Homo sapiens: one gene and its partner. The protein of the gene in region 2 purifies or fractionates together with the protein of the main gene of each other region. This does not show direct contact. Each region holds a gene or a part of one and is shown on either strand. Other genes may lie near its edges.

Region 1 (7,294 bases), on a different chromosome or scaffold from region 2:
TTCTGAGTCATAGAGAGTAGCATATCCAGTCTGGAGGAATCGCAAATGGACAGTGGGAAGGGAGAGAGAAAATATGTGCCCAGTCTTACTTTCCTGACTTACCCATCATTAAAACTGGGAGGACTAGCACGATAAACAGAGAAGGGAAAGATCAAAAGGACCCTAGATCCTAGAAATAAGGACAAAAATTAAAATGATTCAACATAAAGAAAAGACTCCAGCACATACAGCTATTCAAGGGAGAAACCTGGAAAGCAGCAACAGCCTAGAAAAGATGGGAGGTGAGGCGCAGACAGCCAAAAAAGCTGAGTTTGGTAGGAAACAGAAGACAAACACCACTGTGCCTGCAACATAATTAGCAAAGAATCAAAGCACCATGCACAAAACCACAATGGCAAGTAGACCTGAGACTGACTCTGCCTTGCTGAGGAGGCTGAGGGCAGACACCTAAAATGAAGAAATCTTGTTTTAAAAATACTAATCCTGGGTCCCTCTGACTCCCATTCTTATTCTGATTTTAGGTCTGAAATGGATCTGTATTTTAATAAGGACCCATGTAGTTCTACTGTAAGTTGTCCAAGAACCACAGTTTGAGAAGCACTGATCCAGAAGTCTGAAGAACTGCTTAGAGTAAGTGCATCAAGGCTAATAGCAATTAGCAATTCATTTTCAGAAGAGTTTTCATATGGGATTGTGTCAGAGATCATCTCTTGGGGAGAGATGTCACTTAGTGCCATCTTAAAATAAATCAATGCTCTGGAGGATGTTCTCCTGGGAATGTCTGTTGGCCCAACACATTTGCCTCTCTGAACATTACCACAGTGAATTCCAAGAGGTAACACCAGACAGAAGGGGAATTCTGGGTAGCAAAGCTCTAGGACAGGCCCATTACCCACTAAAGCATTCCTTTATGGTCAGAGCTTGACATTAGAGATGGAGACACCCACCTATACTTACCTGTGCAAAGAGGGAGATGCTGTACTGTCCCATTAAACCCTTGCTCCCTGTTCTCAGACAAAAATTCACTTCTTGCCTTAAACGGTGATACAGCACAGCTATCCAAAAAAGCTGGTGTCTTCCCTTCCACCAATCACTGAATTCAGGGACATTTGCTGAGTGATCTGGTGCCTTTGGACGTAAGGGGCAACCAAGACCTGGAAAACCAGAAACCTTTCTGTAGCATGGGGGTTTAAAGTCAGACTGGGTGGACACTTGGTTGACCTAAACCTTGTTGAGATGCCTTGATCCTGTCTCTTGGGTGACAGGAACACTTCCCAAATGGGAACTTTCTAGGTACTTCAGCTCCCTTTCTTAGTGCTTGGTGGCAGATGGTACCTACTGAGAATCAAAAAAGGTTCACCAGGCAGCCTGGCAGTAGTAGTAGCTCCAGTCACCAAGCATGCAGCTGCTGGCTAGCTGCCTTGAGACCCTTGGCAGGACAGCCAGGGGCTGACTGGATTACCACATCTCCTCAGCAGAGAACCACATTCCTTGAGCTGCCAGCCCCATATGTGACAACAGATCCCATCACCTTGGCTTCTGCTTTGTAACTGTTTGTCTTCAGCCAGATGTTTCTGGCTACTATGGAAAAGTGGAACTGTGCTAAGATGGAGAACTGGCAGGCTGTGTGCAGGAGCTGGGCAAGAGCCCTGGCTTATGAAAGAAGCTAGAGAGGTCTGTCAGAGCTACCAACATCAGATTCTGTCTCTTAATGATTTAAACGATTATTCCACAATTAGGCCGGAAGGGTTAGAAGAGCAGCTGTTGGGACTGGGATTCCAGGTGGTGAAAAGCAGAGACCAGCTTCTGCTTAAGAGAAGCAAAAGAAGAATATTTAAATGAAAACTCAACTTCCATCCTCAAATATCTAGATAAGAAAATAGACTTGATGAACATCCCACAATGACATCTCCTATTCACCCAATGTCAAATATTTCCAGCCATATGGAATTCAAGATCAGAACTTTCTTGTCATTGTGATATCAAGAGGACAGAATGACTTGTTTTCCTTTCAGAAGCTTGGTGGGACATGATGTTATGTTACCCATCATTGGTTCTGCTAGTTACCACCTAGAAATGATAAAGAGGATGCTTTATTTTTATTTATTTATTTTTTTTTGAGATTCTCTTTCATTCATTCATTCACTTTCTACTAAGTGTCAGGTTCCGCATGAAGTTCTTGGACTTCATAAAGATAAAACAGACACAGTCTCTATTCTCAAGGAGCTCACAGCCCAGGAGAAGAGAGTGACATGGAAACAAATAACTGCAGTTTGGTGTGACAAGTACTGACATGAGAATGTGTAAGAGGTACAATGATAGCACAAGGAACGAGTGATCAATTCTATTAAGATGGATGCCACAGAAAGTAAAAAGCTTGCAGGTAGCTGGAGATAGGGGACAGGAGGGCATTCCAAGTAAAGGTACCCTGGCAAGAAGGCACTTTGACAAATTCAAGAAGCTTGAAAAGTGGCTCAGTGTAGTTGGACAGAGGATATCTGTAGGAGACAGGAGGGAGAAGAGGCTGGAGAGGAAAGGACCACACCAGGCCACCCACTTTCTATCACTTTGTATATAATGGGTGCTATCTCTAGTTTTTTTATTTAAAACAAATGCTTCCCATTCCAGATATTCAACAGCCATCTACATGCACAGCACTAAATGAGGGACCTGAGGGATATCCCTCTAAGGAGCTTACACTGAACCGAATTGGGTGGATTAAACACATACGCTACACAGCTAAAGAAGACAAAAAATGGACCAACAAGTACATCCAACTATAAATGGTACAGATTGCACAAAGTACTAAGGAAATTCACAGGTTCTTGGATTCTGACAAAGCTTGAATACTATCTAATTAGAGAACTGTTCAAATGCTTGAATCCCCTTGACAAAACCCTGGCTAAATGAGCACCTATGGGACGTGGGACGTTCACTCAGGCACGTTAGTCTGGCTGAGGCCAAAAGGCCACGAACCACAGGATGCCCAGAAGGCTTTTATGGCAATATAAGAGAGACGTGCCTTAGACAAGACAGGGTCCTAGACAGGACCTTTTCTCCACTGGTGAAATGAATGGGATGATTAAGAATACAGCAACTGCCTAAAGTCTTCATCTTCCATCATAATTATAACCCACAGAAAAAAAACATTTCATGGCATACTATTACTTTTTACAGCTTGTTCCCTCACACACACACACAAAAAGCTTTAAAAATAAGCATTTCATTGGGTCCTTTATGCATCTCCAGATTAAAAGTTTCACGTAGAAGTAAGGAAGTATTCAGTTTATCTGAAGATACTTGCAGGCCTCTGGGGAATGCAGCACATATTCTAGGGTGTGAGGAAAGGCCTTTGATAGTCCAGAGCTTCCACAAATGAAGCCTGCTGGTCATGGATGGGCTTGACTACAGCCCTTCCTTACTCCTTATGACTGTGTGATAGCTCTGGTCCTGGCTGGGAGGTCACACCACTGTCCCCTCATTACCCTTCCAAGCCTAGGGGAGCTGCCATACAGTGAAGGCACAAGCAATGGCACTCACCCTCATGGAGGTCTCTCCACCATGGGCCTGTTGCAGCCTGAAGACCTGGGCCACCATGTGCTCTGTGGAGGGGTGCAGCAGGATCCTTCGTGAGGCCAAGCCCACCATTACATATCTGCCCATTGGGGACAGGCTCACCGAAATGGCATTGGGACCTGAGGGCCAACAAAACAGAGAAATATTTCCTAGGCTTCTGGCCATTCCAAGGAAACAACTTTCACTCTTACTCTTGTCTTTTTCTCTAATCTTCATATTCACTTGCTCATCCTGGTGTTATCTCATAGGACTGTAGTGAGGAGTATGATGAGAAGGCATATACATACTGAGTGTAGTGTTTGACATATAGAAAGCACATAATAAGGCTGAACGCGGTGGCTCATGCCTGTAATCCCAGCACTTTGGGAGGCCGAGGTCGGGGGATCACCTGAGGTAGGGAGTTTGAGACCAGCCTGACCAACATGGAGAAACCCCATCTCTACTAAAAATACAAAGTTAGTCAGGCGTGGTTGCGCATGCCTGTAATACTAGCTACTCGGGAGGCTGAGGCAGGAGAATCGCTTGAACCCGGGAGGTAGAGGTTGCGGTAAGCTGAGATCACGCCATTACATTCCAGCCTGGCCAACAAGAGTGAAACTCCGTCTCAAAAAAAAAAAAAAAAAAAAAAGAAAGAAAGTACTTAATAAATGCTAACCGTTGTTATCAACATTTTAAAAAATTGTTAACATCCTGTAATTACTATTTTGAAACCCACCTTTTTCATTTAATACATTATGAACACTGTTCTGTAAGAGCATTTTAAGGGCCAATGGAGCAGTTCTATCACTGCACCATCATTTGTTTAGTCAACTCTTAAAAAAAAAACAAAAAACACTTAAATTCAACTCAAGGTGACACCAACAAAACACCCACCCCACCCTCCCGCAAAACAAACAAACAAACAAACAAAAAAGTCTCAAGGCAACAATTTGGCATTTTTCTGTATGGTAACACTGCTGTGAACACCCTTGTATGTAAATCTTTGTATAGTTTTCTGATTATTTCCTTAAAAGCTGGATTGCCAAAGAGCTGACACATTTTGGGAGGTTTTAAATACACAATGCCAAACTGTCTTGCAGTGCATGTGTGTGCTACAACCACCTCCTCCCTTATTCCTGACCGTCGTAACAGGGGCATGCGGTAGGACTCTAATGCTCAGATGCTTCTGCAATGTTACTAGCCAGCACTCCTGCAAAGCAATCTTTCTCTGGCCTGTGCCCCAGTGAAGGTAGGGGCAGTATGTGACCATTACTCCCACCCAAGCTGTGCCTCACCTAGCAATGACCATGCCAAGGCACCAGCGTCCCTCTGTCATTAGGTTGGGCTTCCTATCCCTTACCAAATCGCTTGGTGTAGAGCATTTCGCCCAGGTTATGGGGGGCCAGGGAGTACACTGCCAGGATGCCTTCATCAGGAAAGCCCCTCTGGCTGCTGGGGATGAAAGCTGCCAGGAGCTGGCCATCTGCAGAAATGTCACAGCTGGCATCATTGTAGATCTTGCAGTTCTGCACCAGCACATTCACGGAAGCTGCATCAGACAAAGAAAGAAAAGAGGATAAGAAACTTTGGAGTTGATACTGTAAAAATTCTGGGGCCAAGAAACTTTAGGGACTTCCTAAGGGCCTGAACCTTGTCTAGAAATGCTAAAGAATACCTTCTCATTCAAACTAAAATGTCAAATGAACAAAACACAGGAGGCAAGAAAAGTATGTCTCTTCTCCCACCTTAGCAGGAAACTATAGGATAGTCAACACCACCACAACCACCTGCTGAGTCTTAGTTCACATTTAGGAAATACCGCTTGAGAGATTAGATAAGGAAAAAGTTATTAAAAATTATTCCTAGAGAGCCATTTAACAGCTGTTATTGTCCCAGAGATCAAAACCAAGATAAATGAAAATGCAAACCCACTGGTTCCAAGAAAAAGATGATACAGGTAGAGCTTTCTTGGGGCAGGAATCCTATTCAACACCTGTTATGTGACCTTGGAGAAGAAAGTCATTTCATAAATTTGTATCTTACTTTCTCATTTAAGAGAAAGAGAACTGGAACATCTAGAGACCAGTTTTCTGGAACAGCTCCTTGCTAATACTAATCTCTAACTCTACCAAGAGAGGAAACAGAACAAAGCCCAGCTGCGGCTGGATGGCCAGGGCTCTTTTCATTTCCCACTATGCTCTATGCCAATGTCCATGACAGCCCTAGTCTGCACTTTGCAGCTCCTGAGAACAAACTGCAGGGTCAGGCAGGCAGCAGGCTCAGCCTGGTAAGGTGGCAAGATCTGAGGGTGGAGGAATGTCTGTTGGTGAGGAGCATCCACTCCACACAACAGCACCAATGAGATGTTAACTGGCACTGTGCCTATAGGCCTTGTTTCGGTTTTCATTTGAATCCCTCTGAGTCCCACCGTGTGATTCCCTGCCAGGAAGAAGTGGCTTACCCTTGATGTGAGCATAGAACAAGAGTGCCCACATCATGGGCCCGGGCAGAACAGCACAACACATTCAAACAGACCAAGCTCATCAGGGCTTTGTCTCATGTAGATATACCTCAAGCAAAAAAACTTTTCACTGTTTCTCTTATTTGAAGGAGATGTCCACTGTCAGAGGCATTGTGGTAATTTTTTAAAAGCCAAGCTCAGCTGCCCTCGCCAGAGTCCAGGTGATCTACTGCAGTAATCCAAAAAAAGTCAAGGGCAAGTTTCCCTAGGAAATTACCTCAAGGAAAACAAAACAAGGAATTGCTCTTTCAGAGGCCCCCAGGCTTATGTGATCTGATACTTAAGAGTGATTTGTAAAACTCTATTTGTTCTCCTTTCCCTGTGTGTTGCTAATGAGATGACAGTGTATATCAAAAAAGGCATTAGAATACATTGATTAGGCTATTGTGCCAACTCGGGGGCTGACACCTACAGCACCATTACACATAAAACCGAAGAGGGACCACAAGGATGGTTCTGTTTGCTAACTAATAAAATAATGATATCCAAATACTCACTGCTATCACCATTAGGCCTTTCTACTGCTCAACTCCCAACCCACCATCTGGTCTAGCCTGTAAGGCTAGATTTATCTAATTAGCACTGGGACCGTCTGCTACTTACTACTCAGGGTCCCAAGCCCTTTGCCAAAACAAAAACAAAAACAAAAACAAAAACAAAACACGGCAATATCCCTCTCCTTTTCTGGATCAACACATGAATCCAGCTGGGGATATAGAACCAAAGGAACTGGGAGAAGTTTCAGAAGTGAGACCATCTTGGTTTTCTAACTCTGAGGCTGACAATGCTCAGAAAAATAAACAGAAACTAACAATTTACACTCTAACCACCAAAAGCAGGGAGAGAAAGAAAATAAAGAAATCATAAATGTTAAGTAGTACATGAACCTAAATAGGAAAGGAGATGAGACTCTATGGGCTTTAAGACAGCTTTGAACAGTTACCATTTTATCTACATTTAATGTCTCGAAAATGTCTGTTGGGTATGTTATTAAAGTAGACTTTCCTATCTTGCTGTTACATAGATCCAGCTCGTGTGTGTTAACGTTTATTTTGGTCAAACACCTAGAAGGCTATAGTAACCCTCAAAACTCATCACCAACACACAAAAAAGCATTTAACTGCTTACGGAGACAAGGTGTGCAGAGGAGAGTACAAGTAAGATTTTCCTTCTTCTGGAAAGCTTGGCTCTAAAACCCCTTAAAAACTGGGCATATGG
Region 2 (3,963 bases):
CAGATGCGCTTAAGGAGCGGCGGGGGCGGGGCATGGGGGGTGTCACAACTAATGTGGCCACTGCTTCATTCTCTGGGCAAAATAATATTAAATGGATTAAAGAATCTAAAACCAGTGGGAAAACTGTCTGATTTCTGGATGGCAAAGGCTTTCTAAACTCAAAAGTGATAGGACAAGCTACAGAGGAAAATAAGTACATAGATTTGATTTCTCCAAAATACAGAAATGCTGCTGGGCACAGTGATGTGCAGTTATAGTCCCAGCTACTTGGGAGGCCAAGGCAGGAGGATTACTTGAGCCCAGGAGTTTGAGGCTGCAATGAACTATGATCACACCACTGCACTCCAGCCTCGGCGACAGAGCAAGACCTTGTTTCTCAAAAATAAATAAATAGAAGGAAATAAATGTAAAAATGCTGCAAATTAAAAACCTCAAAGAAGGGAAATAATTGCAACAAATGGGAATTGATGTTGAATATTTACCTTAAAAACCTATACAACAATAAGAGGAGTGCGCCCTTCAGCAGCATGTATACAAAAATTGCAACGATACAGAGATTAGCATGGCCCCTGCACAAGGATGACTCGCAAATTCATAAAGCTTTCCATAAATATATTTATTAAAAACCAATAGGAGGAGCACTTCGAGTCGAGTGTAAGGGCCCTTCACAAAAGCAGAAGGAACACTGGCCCAAACCCCCAGCACCCCGGAAGCAGAGGTGAGATGGGAGCAGCTTGGGAGCCCCCCATTGGCGCCGCCCTACTGGGGAAGCCGGTCCGTACGTAGGCCTTGCATCTCGCCACCTCCACTTCTGTCCTCAAGAACAAGTCCTAGGTCAAGGGAAACAGCACAGCCTGTTTATAATTAGGAAACACTTAAAACAGCCTGGCATTTGGGAACAGCCATGTTAACGTGAGCAAATTCCTCTCATGAAATAGCCTGCAGCTATTAAGAAGCACGTGTGTGCAGGAAGCGGAGGCGCAGGACCTCACCGCGCCAGCGTGAAGTTCCCGGGCATGGTCATGAAAGCGTGGTTCTGTAAGAAATCAGAGGGAGAAAGGGAGAGAAGGGGGAGGGAGACAACCCAAACGTTGGAGGGTATTTGTTGTAAACTTCAAACTTTTGGCAGGTTTGAAATTTTTCATAACTCCGGGGAGGAGCAAGAGGGGTGAAAAGAAACAAGTTCTCTACTTGTGATCAGCAGCTGGTCATAGTGGTTGCCTGGAGTATATGCCTTTTTGTATCCTTTGAATTTCCAGCCATGTAAATGTATTATTTATTCCAAAAATAAAGCAGATTTACATTTTAAAAATTCAGTTGTCTCTAACTACTCTTTGTTATCAAGGCTGGTTGAGTCAAATATCACAAAGTAGACACCAATGACTTCTTAAAAATCATATTTACAAAGTACAATGGGGGAAATGCTTATACTACATTAAGGTTAAAAAAATACTAAATTGTGTAACTGATCTGGTTTCATATATATATAAATATACACAGAAAAAAATGTAATATATATCTGCACAGAAAAAAGCTGAAAGAAACATATGCCAGAATGCTAGCAGTGCTTGTATGCGTGCAGATGACGCACTCAGTCAGCGCCTTTACTTGTACGTGAGCGCTTAGGGGCCCTGTCTCTGGGGACCATGTGGGGCGGTGGGGCGCTTGAGACAGTGTTTCCCTGCATCGTGGCCGGACCTCTCTACTCAATCCCCAGTGTTCTACAGTGAACATGAATTTTATAAGCAGAAAGAAATTACTTTTAAGAGCCAGGCGCAGTGGCTCACACTTGTAACCCCAGCACTTTGGGAGGCTGAGGCGGGCGGATCACAAGGTCAGGAGTTCGAGACCTGCCTGGCCAACATGCTGAAACCCAGTCTCTACTACAAATACAAAAATTAGCCGGGCGTGGTGGCCAGCGCCTGTAATCCCAGCTACTCCAGAGGCTGAGGCAGGAGAATCGCTTGAACCCAGGAGGCGGAAGTTACAGTGAGCTGAGACCACACCATTGCACTCCAGTCTGGATGACAGAGCAAGACTACATCTCAAATAAATAAATAAATACATAAATAAATAAATTACTTTTAAGAATCACCAATAGAAATCTGTCTTTCCATCTTTTTTTTTTTTTTTTTTGAGATGGAGTCTTGCTCTGTCGCCCAGGCTGGAGTGCAATGGCGCAATCTTGGCTCACTGCAACCTCCGCCTCCTGGGTTCAAGCAATTCTCCTGCCTCAGCCTCCTGAGTAGCTGGGAGTACAGGTGCCTGCCACCACGCCTGGCTAATTTTTTTATTTTTAGTAGAGACGGGGTTTCATCATGTTGGTCAGGCTGGTCTCGAACTCCTGACCTCATGATCCACCCACCTTGGCCTCCCAAAGTGCTGGGATTACAGGTGTGAGCCACCGCGCCCAGCCTTTCCTTCCATCTTGATTGCAGTGGTGATTACACACATGTAGACATTCATCAGAACTCATCAAAGTATACACTTAAGTCTGTGCATTTTATTACATGTAAGTAACACCTCAATCTGAAAAGTATCAGGGCAACACCACACACTGCAGAGGGGCAGGGCTCCTCCGGCAGTTACTCACTTCCCTTGAAACAGAAGCTCAAACATGGAGTAGTCTTCTGTGACTAAACTTGTTTTCCGCCCTCCCAACTTCCAGGAAGAACCTTCTTCTGAATAGGATTTGAGGTAACTTAGGAAACTGCTCTCAATACGGAATTTTAAAGTTGGTGAGGAAGTCGACAGAAGGGGAAGTCACAGTAGGAAAATCAAGGTACTATCAGGATGAAGTCAGCACGCAGAGCAAGGCCAGCGAGGCCCAGGCGCCAGGCCTTGGTCCCTGCCCACCTCACCCAGGCCAGCCAGACAGCACGGACTGCCCTACAAGGTCACCTCAGAGAGATGGGGGTGTTCTCTCACTGCTGGCTTTTGATGAGCCCAGGAGGGCTCAGCCTTCACTATCCTCCCTAACAGGCATTTGGGGTGCAGAGATGCTGACGCCTGAATAAGGTTGGGATTCGGGGCCCTTGGGAACACTGGGCACCTGGTGGGTGGGTGGAGGGGCAGGACCGGCTGCAGCCATGTTTCCCTTAGAAACAGACTGCTGGAATTAACGAACTAAACAAATGAACCAAGGTGCTTCACCCCCCAAAAAAGTGAGTTTTGTTCTGCGTGGAGCGATTGCCTTTGGGAAGCCACCAAGGCCACCTGCCAACAGGCAAATGCTGTGCTGCCGTCTGCCTGGCTGACTCCGGCCCTCCCAGTCCTGCAAGCTCATGGCCAGGACGATAACGATGACAGGGGCAACACCATGGTCCTCGCTGCCCTTCCTGGGGCAGGAGGGCCCAGAAGACTGATAAGCTAAACCCAGGGCCTCCCTCGGCTGCTTATCTGCCCAGCACCTTTCCTCTAGGTCCTCTCCTCCCACCAGTACAGGGGTCTGGGAGGGGGTTGCAGGGGGTCCTGAACCACAGATCCCTGGAGACTCAGTGGGAGCAGCTGTACTAGGAATCAGGCACCACTCCGCTGCTGTAAGTCTTCGTGAGAGCCACTGGCCAGCTTCCTCTGACTTCCCTGTCCCCTCACCCAAATCGATGACATCAGGAGCTAATGGCCCAGGCTGCCCTCCTGCTGCAGTGCCCATAATTCTTCCGGCAGGCCCCGCCCTGCACTCCACGACCAGCCTGGGTTCTTCATCCTGGTAACCTGACAATGGATTTCGTGGGGCCCACTCTCAGTGCCCGCCAGCCTGTGTCCTGCCTGGCCAGGCAATGAGTACCGGCGGCAGGCAGCTGCCTCACCCCTGCATGACCCCCCCAGCCCAGGGGACTCAATGGCGCTGTCATCAAAGGGGCAGCTGTAGATCTAGGAGGGACGTGGAGGGGGCTAGCCCTGGGCCTCTGGCATTGTGGAGGCTGACCTATAGAGAACAGAGCTGGAGCTGGGGAGACATGA

What was found.
Region 1: the proteins of ANKRD9 (region 2) and AMBRA1 purify together in Homo sapiens (affinity purification with mass spectrometry; 2 studies listed by BioGRID and IntAct, with this or other methods). This does not show direct contact.

What each region holds. Positions count from the first base shown.
Region 1 is NC_000011.10:46,429,934-46,437,227, forward strand, and holds part of AMBRA1 (activating molecule in BECN1-regulated autophagy protein 1), read right to left. Parts: intron 5,105-7,294; coding exon 4,916-5,104; intron 3,696-4,915; coding exon 3,541-3,695; intron 1,155-3,540; exon of another isoform or gene 958-1,154; intron 1-957. UniProt on the Homo sapiens protein: Substrate-recognition component of a DCX (DDB1-CUL4-X-box) E3 ubiquitin-protein ligase complex involved in cell cycle control and autophagy.
Region 2 is NC_000014.9:102,501,166-102,505,128, forward strand, and holds the end of ANKRD9 (ankyrin repeat domain-containing protein 9), read right to left. Parts: 3' UTR 602-3,963; downstream 1-601.